Regions from separate parts of the Homo sapiens genome. Here region 1 is reported to be linked to region 2. Evidence: microRNA targets listed by miRTarBase, many of them from high-throughput screens and not tested one by one. Region 2 holds a microRNA gene; the other region holds the end of a gene's coding sequence.

What was found. Region 2 holds the annotated microRNA hsa-miR-6876-3p (AGCUGUCUGUGUUUUCCUUCUCAG, at 1,939-1,962, opposite strand). A microRNA usually pairs through its seed, bases 2 to 8, with sites in the 3' UTR of a target mRNA and lowers its output. Matches are read on the target gene's strand: a 7mer-m8 pairs with bases 2 to 8, a 7mer-A1 pairs with bases 2 to 7 and ends in A, and an 8mer does both.
Region 1: the mRNA of ZNF182 is a reported target of hsa-miR-6876-3p. Seed matches in the 3' UTR shown: 7mer-m8 at 4,107-4,113 and 8mer at 4,007-4,014.

The regions. Positions count from the first base shown.
Region 1 is chrX:47,971,860-47,977,240 of GRCh38, forward strand. ZNF182 (zinc finger protein 182) reads right to left here. Exons shown (of 6, transcript NM_001007088.2): 6 at 2,992-5,381. The coding sequence ends at 4,308. Among named protein-coding and RNA genes, the nearest start is that of ZNF182, 29 kb to the right of the region's middle.
Region 2 is chr8:25,342,032-25,347,412 of GRCh38, reverse strand. It overlaps MIR6876 (microRNA 6876), which reads right to left and starts at 2,011; the gene lies at 1,939-2,011. DOCK5 (dedicator of cytokinesis 5) reads right to left here. Exons shown (of 52, transcript NM_024940.8): 25 at 4,906-5,012; 26 at 1,802-1,938. RefSeq lists enhancers at 1,726-2,020, 2,003-2,062.

The DNA.
Region 1 (5,381 bases), not on the chromosome of region 2:
TATATTTGCATTTTTCAAAAAAATTGATTTAATAAGCCATGTGACTCAACCATTTTATTTCATTTTATTTTTTTTGAGGCAGAGGCTCACTGTGTCACCCAGGCTGGGGGCAATCTCGGCTCACTACAACCTCCACCTCCTGGGTTCAAGCAATTCTCCTGCCTCAGCCTCCTGAGTAGCTGGGACTACAGGCATGTGCCACCACACCTAGCTAACTTTTGTATTTTTAGTAGAGACGGGGTTTTACCATGTTGGCCAGGCTGGTCTTGAGCTCCTGACCTCAAGCAATCCACCTGCCTTGGCCTCCCAAAGTGCCAGGATTACAGGCGTGAGCCACTACATCCGGCCTGACTAAAGCATTTTAATTTGGTCTGTGAGCCTTTCTATTCTGAGACTTCTAGGGTAGCTTGCCTGGTCGCATATTGAAGACTATCATTGTATCAAGGGAACTTCTCACATTAACAGACCCCAAAGGATAAAGTGAGAAGGGATCATAATTCAAAGTTTGGAGTTTACCTAAAGAAATAGGACAATAATATGAAATAATTGGCTAAAATATTGGGGGCCCAGTATTGATCTGGGTGGTTATAGGGTCAATCAAGGGACACAGGGCTGATCTTAGGAATCCAGGATAGTTTCGGGAGCCCTAAGAACAAGGTGAAGAAGGACCATAATTAATTTTATTTTAGACATTTTAGCTAAAGCAGTAAGACAAATTAAGTAACTGGCATAAATAGATGTGGGGGTGGGAGTTAGGGCTGGCCAAGGGGGCACAACAGAGCTGATTTGGGGGCGGTGTCAGGGACACCTCTTGCAGTGGGCCCTCTCCCCCTCTGAGTATATATAAGTAACAATGGCAAGGAGATTGTATTAGTCTGTTCTCATACTGCTAAAATACCTGAGACTGGGTAATTTATAAAGAAAAAAGGTTAAGTTGGCTTACTGTTCTGCAGGCTGTACAGGAAGCATGGAAGCATCTGCTTCCAGGGAGGCCTGAGGGAGCTTTTACTCATGGCAGAAGGCAAAGAGGGAACAGGCATCTTACATGGCAGGAGCAGGAGGAAGAAAGGAAGAAGGTGCTACACACGTTTACACGACCAGATCTCACCAGAAGTCACTAACTATATGGTACCAAGGCGGGATGGTGCTAAACCATACATGAGAACTCCACCCCCAAGATCCAATCACCTCCCATCAGACCCCTCCTCCAACACGGGATTACAATTCAACATGAGATTTGGATGGGGACACAGATCCAAACCACATCAGGAATGGAACACAGAAGTGACATTCATTGAGCACTGTCTAGAACACAGGCTGATCCCATCCCATACACCTGTGGTCACTACAGGGTCTTCAGCGCAGCTCCTCTTTGTGCAGAAACCCCAGGGATCACCTCCCACCTCCACCCAACTCCCCATCACCACCAACGCAAGGTCATGCATCACTGAGACCCCAAGAACCTATAACCTCTGACACCACAGATCCCCATCACTCACCTCACAGAGTGCCTCCCATTCCAGCACAGTCTTCCCACCTTGACTGCCCGGCATTCTTCCCCTCTTCATTCATTAGCGTCATGCCATGCTTTGCCACTTTCCTGCACTGCTCTTCACCCAACCCCATTAACCACTGTCATTCACACTGTGCCTCATATCACTCCCAATTTCCTCCACTCTGCACCCACTCACTGCCAGTCTACTCCCTCCTTCTCTCCCCAACACTACTCATGTTTACTTACACTCAACTGTTTCTTCTCCAGTAACTCACAACACTGGATATTTCCCCCATTTCGCCCTACTCTTCCCTGTTCACCACCCTTCTGCCCCTCTTTACTCCATTCACTCCCCACTTAGCCCTTCATTGCCCTCCTCTCTCTTCCTCCAATCCCAATCCTTTTATTCACATGCTGATGTTCATCTCCATCCATTCCCCTGTCTGTGCTTCACTCACCTCCATTCACCCACATGTGGGCCATCAGCTTGCCATTTGTGTCCCAGGAAGCAGGAGTCCAAGATCTACCTGAAATGGTGAGATCTGACCCTCACCCCCACCCCACTATAGGATGGCCTTCAATGGACCTGAAACCCTAGCAAGATTCTCTATAAGTAGAAAGGAAAAATAGCTTTATTTCCAGTGCCCTTGGGCATCTTTCAAGGAGACTGCACCAGGAGCAAGCCAGTCTGCCCCACGTTTCCTCTCCCTGGAAAGGCACTGAATGTGATAGGTTTACCTTAAATAGTTCATAAAGTGAGCCCACGGCTTGTTTCCTTGCAGGATTACTCAGGGTAAAAAGAAGGCCCGAAAGGGCACAGGCAGGGTCTCAGGTCTAACTCACCCACCCATTTTGATAAATCCAAACATTGCCCATCCCTAGTTTTTCACAGCTTAAGTTGTCCAGTTCCAGCAAAGAGATGGCCCCAGTGAAAAGCCACAGAAGCATGAGGGCCACAAATACAGTAATTCACAAGCAGGACCTCTCGTTCTGAAGCAAATGTCCTGTTATGTGGGCTTTGACTATGTCCATTCAGACCATCACTCTCAATCTGTCTATCACCTTGGAAAATATGTATCGCCAGCACTAGAGCAACCTTAGAGAAGCAAGTTATTCAACCTCTCTATGGATTCGTGTTTTGCAGCACTTGTAAAAAGCGTTTGTATGAATGATGTAATAAAAATAATTTCGTTAAGATATGGAAAGTCCTCGGTGGGCTTTAGTACAGGATCTTTTCACAGATGTCACTATGCATGTTCCAGTCTCAATTATTTTAGTTACCTAATGTGGTCCCAGCTGACCGGAGAATCACTTCATTTGGCAACCTCAGGAAAATAATGCCTATGTGCCTCTGGAATTGATTGAATAACTGTTGTTCTATCTGCTTGGTTCTTCAATTTATTCACCAAAAATAAACTCTACATTGAGCATATCTATATTAAATGTTATAAAATCCTGTACCTAGACTGTGACTTTACTATAACAGTAAAACAAAATAGCTTTTTAAATGTTTTATTTTTGAAAAGGTAGTACATCCACATAGTACATAGTACACCCACATTTTCAAAAGCTATGAAAGGATACAGTTGTCTCCCTCTCAATTCCATCCCCCCAGCCACCACTGCCCCTTCCCCTCCCAAGGTAATCAGGGTTACCAGGTTCTCATGTCTCTTTCCAGAGATAACTTATGAATTCACAATTATGTACTTACCATTTTTCTCCTTTTTATATACAAATGGCAGTCACTGTCCTCAACCTTATTTTTCCTACCTAATAACATAAACTGAAGGTTATCCCACATCACTACATAAATGGTTTCCAAGTTCTCCTTATTTATTCATTGTTGTCTACCCAGGAGTAGGCTGTATGAATATACCACAATTTAGGGAACCAGAACCCTGATATGGTGTCATTTAAACAGCTTCCAATCTTTTGTTTTCACAAACGCTGCATTAATGAATACTGTATGTTCATCATTTTGTACATGTGTGAGTATGTACATTCCTAGAAGTGGAATTGCTGGCCCAAAAACCAAATGCATTTGTGGTTTTGATTACTTTTGAATAATTCCTCTTTGAATGAGAAGAGTTTTTCCTGGACTTGCTATTTGCTGGAGGTTCATGTGGGAAAAGAAACCAGGGCCACATTCTAAGCAGATCAGTTTTTTTTTTTTTTGACAACTGAGAATTTTTTCCCCCCACAGCTGTTCGTTCTTTCTGACTTTACTTCTCCCAAGTCAGTAAATAGGGGCAGCTGTAGGGCTCTTCACAAGGAAAAGTCCCTTCTCTTCCCCCAGCATGCCATAACTGTTGCTCCCATCAGTAGACTACTTTCTAAAAATATGGCTTGTCTGAGTGACTCCTTCTCGAGGCCCCAGCCTGTTTCTCCTCAGACCCCAAATGGTCTAGGAAACATCCTACCTCCTACCTGCCCACGCACTGTTACCACTGTTATATCTATGGTTCCGCGCCTCGGGGTATATCCCGAACCTCAGCTAAGAGTCCTTACCAGTGCTGTCTTGCACCTGCAGCCTTGAGCACTCTCACTCTGAAATCTCCTGCACCAGTGCTTCATTTCCTCTGCCTGTGGCAGCCCTCTCATTAGGGTTGCAGCTGTCTCCTAATTTTGTCAGATACAGAGATTACACTTCTGCTTTTTCTCCCGTAGCTTTTGGGTTATGACTGAGATGAAAAGAAGAAAGGCTGAATTTACTCCCATATTTAAACCACAAGTCAAAATATACTTTTAAAATGTGAGTAAAATTGACACAACTTTCTTTCAGTGTCCATAATAGATACTGCTGATTAGCTCTCTAATGTGCCATGAACTTTGACTTCCGAGTGTGGCCTCTTCCATGGGCTTTCTTTCCTGCATGGGTTCGCTGATGTACAATAAGGTTTGATTTTTGGGTAAAGGCTTTCCCACATTCTGTACATTTATAGGGTTTCTCTCCAGTATGAGTTCTTTGATGTACAGTGAATGTTGACTTTTCTCGGAAGGCTTTGCCACACTCAGTGCATGCATAGGGTTTCTCTCCCGTGTGCGTTCTCTGATGTATTATGAGCTGTGACTTCTGGCTAAAAGCTTTCCAACACACAGGACATTCATAAGGTTTCTCTCCTGTATGAATTCTCTGATGTATAATGAGCTTTGACTTTTCTCTGAAGGCTTTGCCACATTCATTACATTTATAGGGTTTTTCTTCTGTATGAGTTCTTTGATGTATAATGAGATATGATTTCTGTGAAAATGCTTTTTCACATTCATTGCACTCGTAAGGTTTCTCTCCTGTATGACCTCTCTGATGCAGCATGAGGTAGGACTTCTGAGAGAAGGCTTTCTCACATTCATTACATTCAAAGGGTTTCTCTCCTGAATGAGTTCTCTGATGTACACCAAGGTTTGACTTTTGCGTGAAGGTTTTTCCACACACATCACATTCATAGGGTTTCTCTCCTGTATGAGTTCTTTGATGCACAATGAGGGTTGACTTCTCATTGAAAGACTTCCCACATTCAGTACATTTATGAGGTTTCTCTCCCGTATGAGTTCTCTGGTGTATAATGAGAGTTGACTTATCACTGAAAGTTTTCTTACACTCATTACATTCATGGGGTTTCTTTCCTGTATGGGTACTATGATGTATAATTAGATCAAGCTTCTGTATGAAAGATTCTCCACATTTAGTGCATTCATAGGTTTTCTCTCCAGTGTGGGTTTTCTGATGGACAATGAGGTTGGACTTCTGAGTGAAGGCTTTTCCACATTCATTACATTCATAAGGTTTTTCTCCTGTGTGAGTCCTGTAATGTATGATGACAGTTGACTTTTCTCTGAAGGCTTTTCCACATTCAGGACACTCAAAGGGTCTCTCTCCTGTATGAGT
Region 2 (5,381 bases):
TACTTAATGAAAAAAAGGGGGAATGATCTATAATGAATAAATATCAAGTAAGCAGTGCAAAGAGTAAGTGGGCTACAGGGGCTTAGGGAAGTGGAGGGACAGAGATTGGCGGAGCAGCTAGAGATGGCAATGGTACCCTCACATACTTCTGAGGCTGCAATGTGGATTCACAGAAATGTAGACATCCCAGTGCAAACCATGAGCAGGAGAAAAGGTGGGCTGTAGTCAAACGGTGGTGGACCCTGACAAGTGAACTAACGGTTTAGCTATGGGAAAAGGTGTAGTATTCATATCCTTTGGTAGGACAGAATCCCAAGATACTGGAAAGATAAAGACTTTAGGTGATGACAAAGAGTGGTTTTCCTGTTCTGTGGGAACACCTGTGCCATGAAACCACCATAGACGTGGTAACTATAATTTGTGGTAAGATGCTTTTTTTTTCTCAGCCCTCAACTGTTCGAGTGAACACATTCTGCAAAGTTCTCCAGCTTCCTGTGTGGGGGCTCTGCTAGGCCTGTGGGCTGCACTATTTCTAGGACATGGTGAATCCAGACAGGTTCAGCCCTATGTTTTCTTTTTTTTTTTTTTGGAGTTGGAGTCTCAATCTATTACCCAGGCTGGAGTGCAGTGGCACAATCTTGGCTCACTGCAACCTCCGCCTCCCAGGTTCAAGGGATTCTCCTGCCTCGGCCTCCCGAGTAGCTGGGACTATAGGCGCGTGCCACCACGCCCAGCTAATTTTGGTATTTTTAGTAGAGACAGGGTTTCACTGTGTTAGCCAGGATGGTCTCGATCTCCTGACCTCGTGATCCATCCACCTCGGCCTCCCAAAGTGCTGGGGTTACAGGCGTGAGCCACCACGCCCGGCCTTAGCCCTGTGTTTTCAAGAGGGATGGGGGCCAGGTCACAGAGAAAACGCAAGATGAGAAAACATAATTTCCATTAGGTTCCAGAGAAAGTATCAGTGTCCAAGAGGATATGGAAATGAGAACTTCTCAGCAGCTCAGAAATATCAGGTTGTTAGGCATCAGAGGATAAGAAGGAAGAGGTGTCTGCATAAAAACAGAAAGGCCTTTGATTCTTTATTTTTTATTATTATTATTATTTTTTAGAGAGACAAAGTCTTACTAAGTTGCCCAGGCTGGTCAGTCTTGAACTCCTGGACTCAAGTGATCCTCCTGACTTGGCCTCCCAAAGTGCTGGGATTACAGGCCTGAGCCACCATGCCCAGTCAGGTCTTTGATTCTTAAGAATAGTCACAGGGGCTGGGCGCGATGGCTCATGCCTGTAATCCCACCACTTTGGGAGGCCGAGATGGGTGGATCACGAGGTCAGGAGATCGAGACTATCCTGGCTAACACAGTGAAACCCCGTCTCTACTAAAAATACAAAAAAATTAGCCGGGCGTGGTGGCGGGCGCCTGTAGTCCCAGCTACTCGGGAGGCTGGGACAGGAGAATGGCGTGAACCCGGGAGGCGGAGCTTGCAGTGAGCCGAGATCGCGCCACTGCACTCCAGCCTGGGCGACAGAGCGAGACTCCCTCTCAAAAAAAAAAAGTCACAGGGATCTCAATAGTGCGCACACTGGGCAAGCCAGGAAAATCAGCCTGCAGAAGGCCCCAGCAGTAATCTGACTTTGCACTGGAGGCTCTGGCCTCCCTAATTATCTCTAAAATGGGCACAGCCTGCCCTAATACCGGAGCTGGAAACTACCTGAGAATAGGAAGGCCACGGAGTCACTCCTGTCTGGTGCAAAGGGGACAGTGTGAACTCTGTGCAGCATCAGTGATGACTCAACTCACCACATCCTTCCTGTCCAGCACCTCCAGGATGTTGCTCAGAAGCTGCGAGCTTGCCTCGTGGTCAGGCTTGTTGGAGTTGTCATCTAACTGGCCGCTGAGCTGGTCTGTCAGCAGTGGCAGCAGCACTTCTCTGCACTCTGAGAAGGAAAACACAGACAGCTCACACACAGCAGTGCCACCTCCTGAACTGCCTGTCTCCTTCCTGCAACTCTTCCTCGACCAGTACCAGTAGCTCTAAGCTCTGCAATCAGCCCTGCAGGGATGCAGCCCCTCCAGGCCACCCAGGAACACCTGGTTTTAGGCACGGAACTTTACCCTTGTTCAATGCGCAGATGAATGAATTAAAAAAAAAAAAAATGACCCTTCTCACAGGTGAAGGTGGGAACTTAGCAAAATGTTTAAATTATTTAACAATTTCTCTAGCTTTTCAAAACGCCAACCTAATGCACGAAATTGAGGGTCATATGAAACAAATAAAACCAAGCAAGTTATACATTTTTTTTTTCAAAAATTTTTTCACCTAATGGAGAAAATTTACTGAAAGAAGTTCCTATAAATAAAGTTCCTATAAATACTGAGCTTCCCTAGTACATGTCAATGACATTCTGCTCATGTCTGTGCAGGCGTGTGGATTTCAGAAAGTAAGGTATGACCTATTATGTCTTCTGAGATCTTTGCTATTGTAACACATTTTATAATGAGTTCAGGTACTCTGAATGCTACAGAAATGACTGTTAACCGTGATCACACTCTAAGTAGAACTATCCAGTGCATGCTTGCTCTTCTGCTCAAACACCTTATCTTTACTATCTCAATTACCTTTTCTGTATCCTTAAAAAGTGATCAAAGCATATTAAAATGTTTAGTAATAATTTGCTTTAGTAATAAATGTTTTCTACTTATGAGCATTCACTAACCTTTTGCAGGCATTACCTCTACCTCCAATTGTGTCTTAGGAACATTTGCAATTTCAAAGTGCAAATTCATAGGGTCAGAAAATATCAGAGCCCAAGGAGGCTACTGATACGATCTAGCTCAAGTCCTTCCTTCCACAGAACTGGAGGCTGAGACTTAGAGAAGGCCACTCATTTGTCCAGTTACATAACTAGCCAGGGGCAAAGCCAGGAAGGCTCTCCCACCAACAATCCACTCAACTTGTTTAACGTTGAGGAGTCCTGCTGGTCTTCAGATCTCCAGGCAATATACATACATAAAATGAGGTTACACTCTGGGAGCCCCTGACCAGGTAGTTAGCCCCAGAAGAAGTCTCCGTGGCTGCCTCACTCTAGCAAGTCTTGAGTTTATTGGGAAGGCCCAGGTGCTGGACCTCCTGTTTATATCAGCTTTGGGACAGAAACACTTGGTGGCTATTTGCTAGACTCTACTTACAAAATGAAAAGTATTTTATCAGTGTAAGAGTTTTTCCCCTCCATGCCCCACTCCTCTCCCAGCAGAATACTAGTAATCTGGCTTCTGCCAGCCTACCCCCTAAAGAAAACAGCTTGGCCAGGTGCAGTGGCTCATGCCTATAATCCCAGCACTCTGGGAGGCCAAGGTGGGTGGATCACCTGAGGTCAGGAGCTTGAGACAAGCTGGCCAACATGGTGAAACCCTGGCTTTACTAAGATTACAAAAAAAATTAGCTGGGCATGGTGGTGCACACCTGTAATCCCAGCTACTTGGGAGGCTGAGGCAGGAGAATTGCTTGAACCTGGGAGGTGGAGGTTGCAGTGAGCCAAGTTCATGCTGCTGCATTCCAGCCTGGGCGAAAGAGTGAGACTCCATCTCAAAACAAAACAAAACAAAAAAACGCTTGCTTTATCATGTTTGCCAGTTACCCTGGTGTAAAGACTTCCACCATGGTCAATTTCCAGCTACTAATGTGATATCACTGAACGTGGGGTTGAGAAGGGATGCATGTAACCAGCTCTCCTGTGGGATCCAACACATTGCTGTTTCCCTGTCCCCTGGTTTTTAAGGTCATGCAATAAGTATAGACTAAAGAAGAATAATTTCTTTTAAAAGGGTCATCTTTTCCTACTTGCTTGTTACTTCCTGAGGTTCCTGTTTTAAAGACAAAATTCTCTAATTAATGAACCACTTGCAGATTGTTCTAATTAAAGATTAAGGAACACATGATTTTGCTCTTTTAGGAACTGTTGGAAATACCGAGCTGACTTTAGATTCTCCTTAAAACCGCTCTCCCAGGAGGTCCTTACATACAACTGGCAACAATATTAATGTTGCCAACAAACAACTGGCAAGAATATTAATGACATTTTTAAAAAAGAAAAGTCAAGTGCTGACTGGGCACGGTAATTATGCCTGTAATCCCAGTACTTTGGGAGGCCAAGTTGGGCAGATCACTTGAGGTCAGGAGTTTGAGGCCAGCCTGGCCAACATTGTGAAACCCCCCCTCTCCCAAAAATACAAAAAAAAAAAAAAATTAGCTGGGTGTGGTGATGTACACCTGTAATCCCAGCTACTCAGGGGGCTGAGGCAGGAGAATCACTTGAACCTGGGAAGCAGAGGTTAGAGGGAGCAGAGACAGTGCCACAGAACTCCAGCCTAGGTGAGGGAGTGAGATTCCGTCTTAAAAAACAAACAAGCCGGACGCGGTGGCTCACGCCTGTAATCCCAACACTTTGGGAGGCCGAGGCGGGTGGATCACGAGGTCAGGAGATCAAGACCATCCTGGCTAACGTGGTGAAACCCCGTCTTTACTAAAAATAAAAATAAAAAAAAATTAGCTGGGCTTGGTGGCAGGTCCTTGTAGTCCCAGCTACTTGGGAGGCTGAGGCAGGAGAATTGCTTGAACCTGGGAGGCCGAGGTTGCAGTGAGCCGAGATTGCGCCACTGCACTCCAGCCTGGGTGACAGAATGAGACTCCGTCTCAAAAAAAAAAAAAAAAAAAAAAAAACAAGAAAAAACAAACAAACAACAAAACCCAAGTGTTAGCTGCAGAAATGGGGCTGTCATCTCAGCATGCAGCAGCTTGTTTTAGCTTTTTGAGATGGAGTCTTGTTCTGTCACCCAGGCTGGAGTGCAATGGTGCAATCTCAGCTCACTGCAACCTCATGCAGCAAGTTTTGAAGGAGACTTACCTGACTGTCGAAAAAGAGTGCTCTCTACTATCTTGGTCATGCAGTTAAGTTTCTGCCGAACCAGCTGGTTGTCAGGAATGCTTTGAATGAATTTGCAGAAGAGCACGCTGGGAGAGAAACCTCAGGGTTAGTAGTGTCTTCGTTCTGCCAAATTGAAGGCATCATTATAAACTTTTCTCCTCCACTCTGAGATTTGGGCATGGAGAGATTTACCTGGAAAACTACAAAATGACCTGAGAGTTTATGACATGGCAGCAAGGGAGATTTTATCCTCACTTACTGGAGGGCTCTGCCTTAGAGCTGAGTATTTAAATTGCCAAAGAACACCCACGTCCATCATCACTTTCCAGACCCGCCTTTATGAAAATGGCTTTCTTGGCAACTCCACTCTCATGTTGATTGCAGTCTGACTTTGCACTGCTGGGATACTTAGGGGTAGGGCTGGAAGCATGTCATTATACACTATCTTTTGTAAT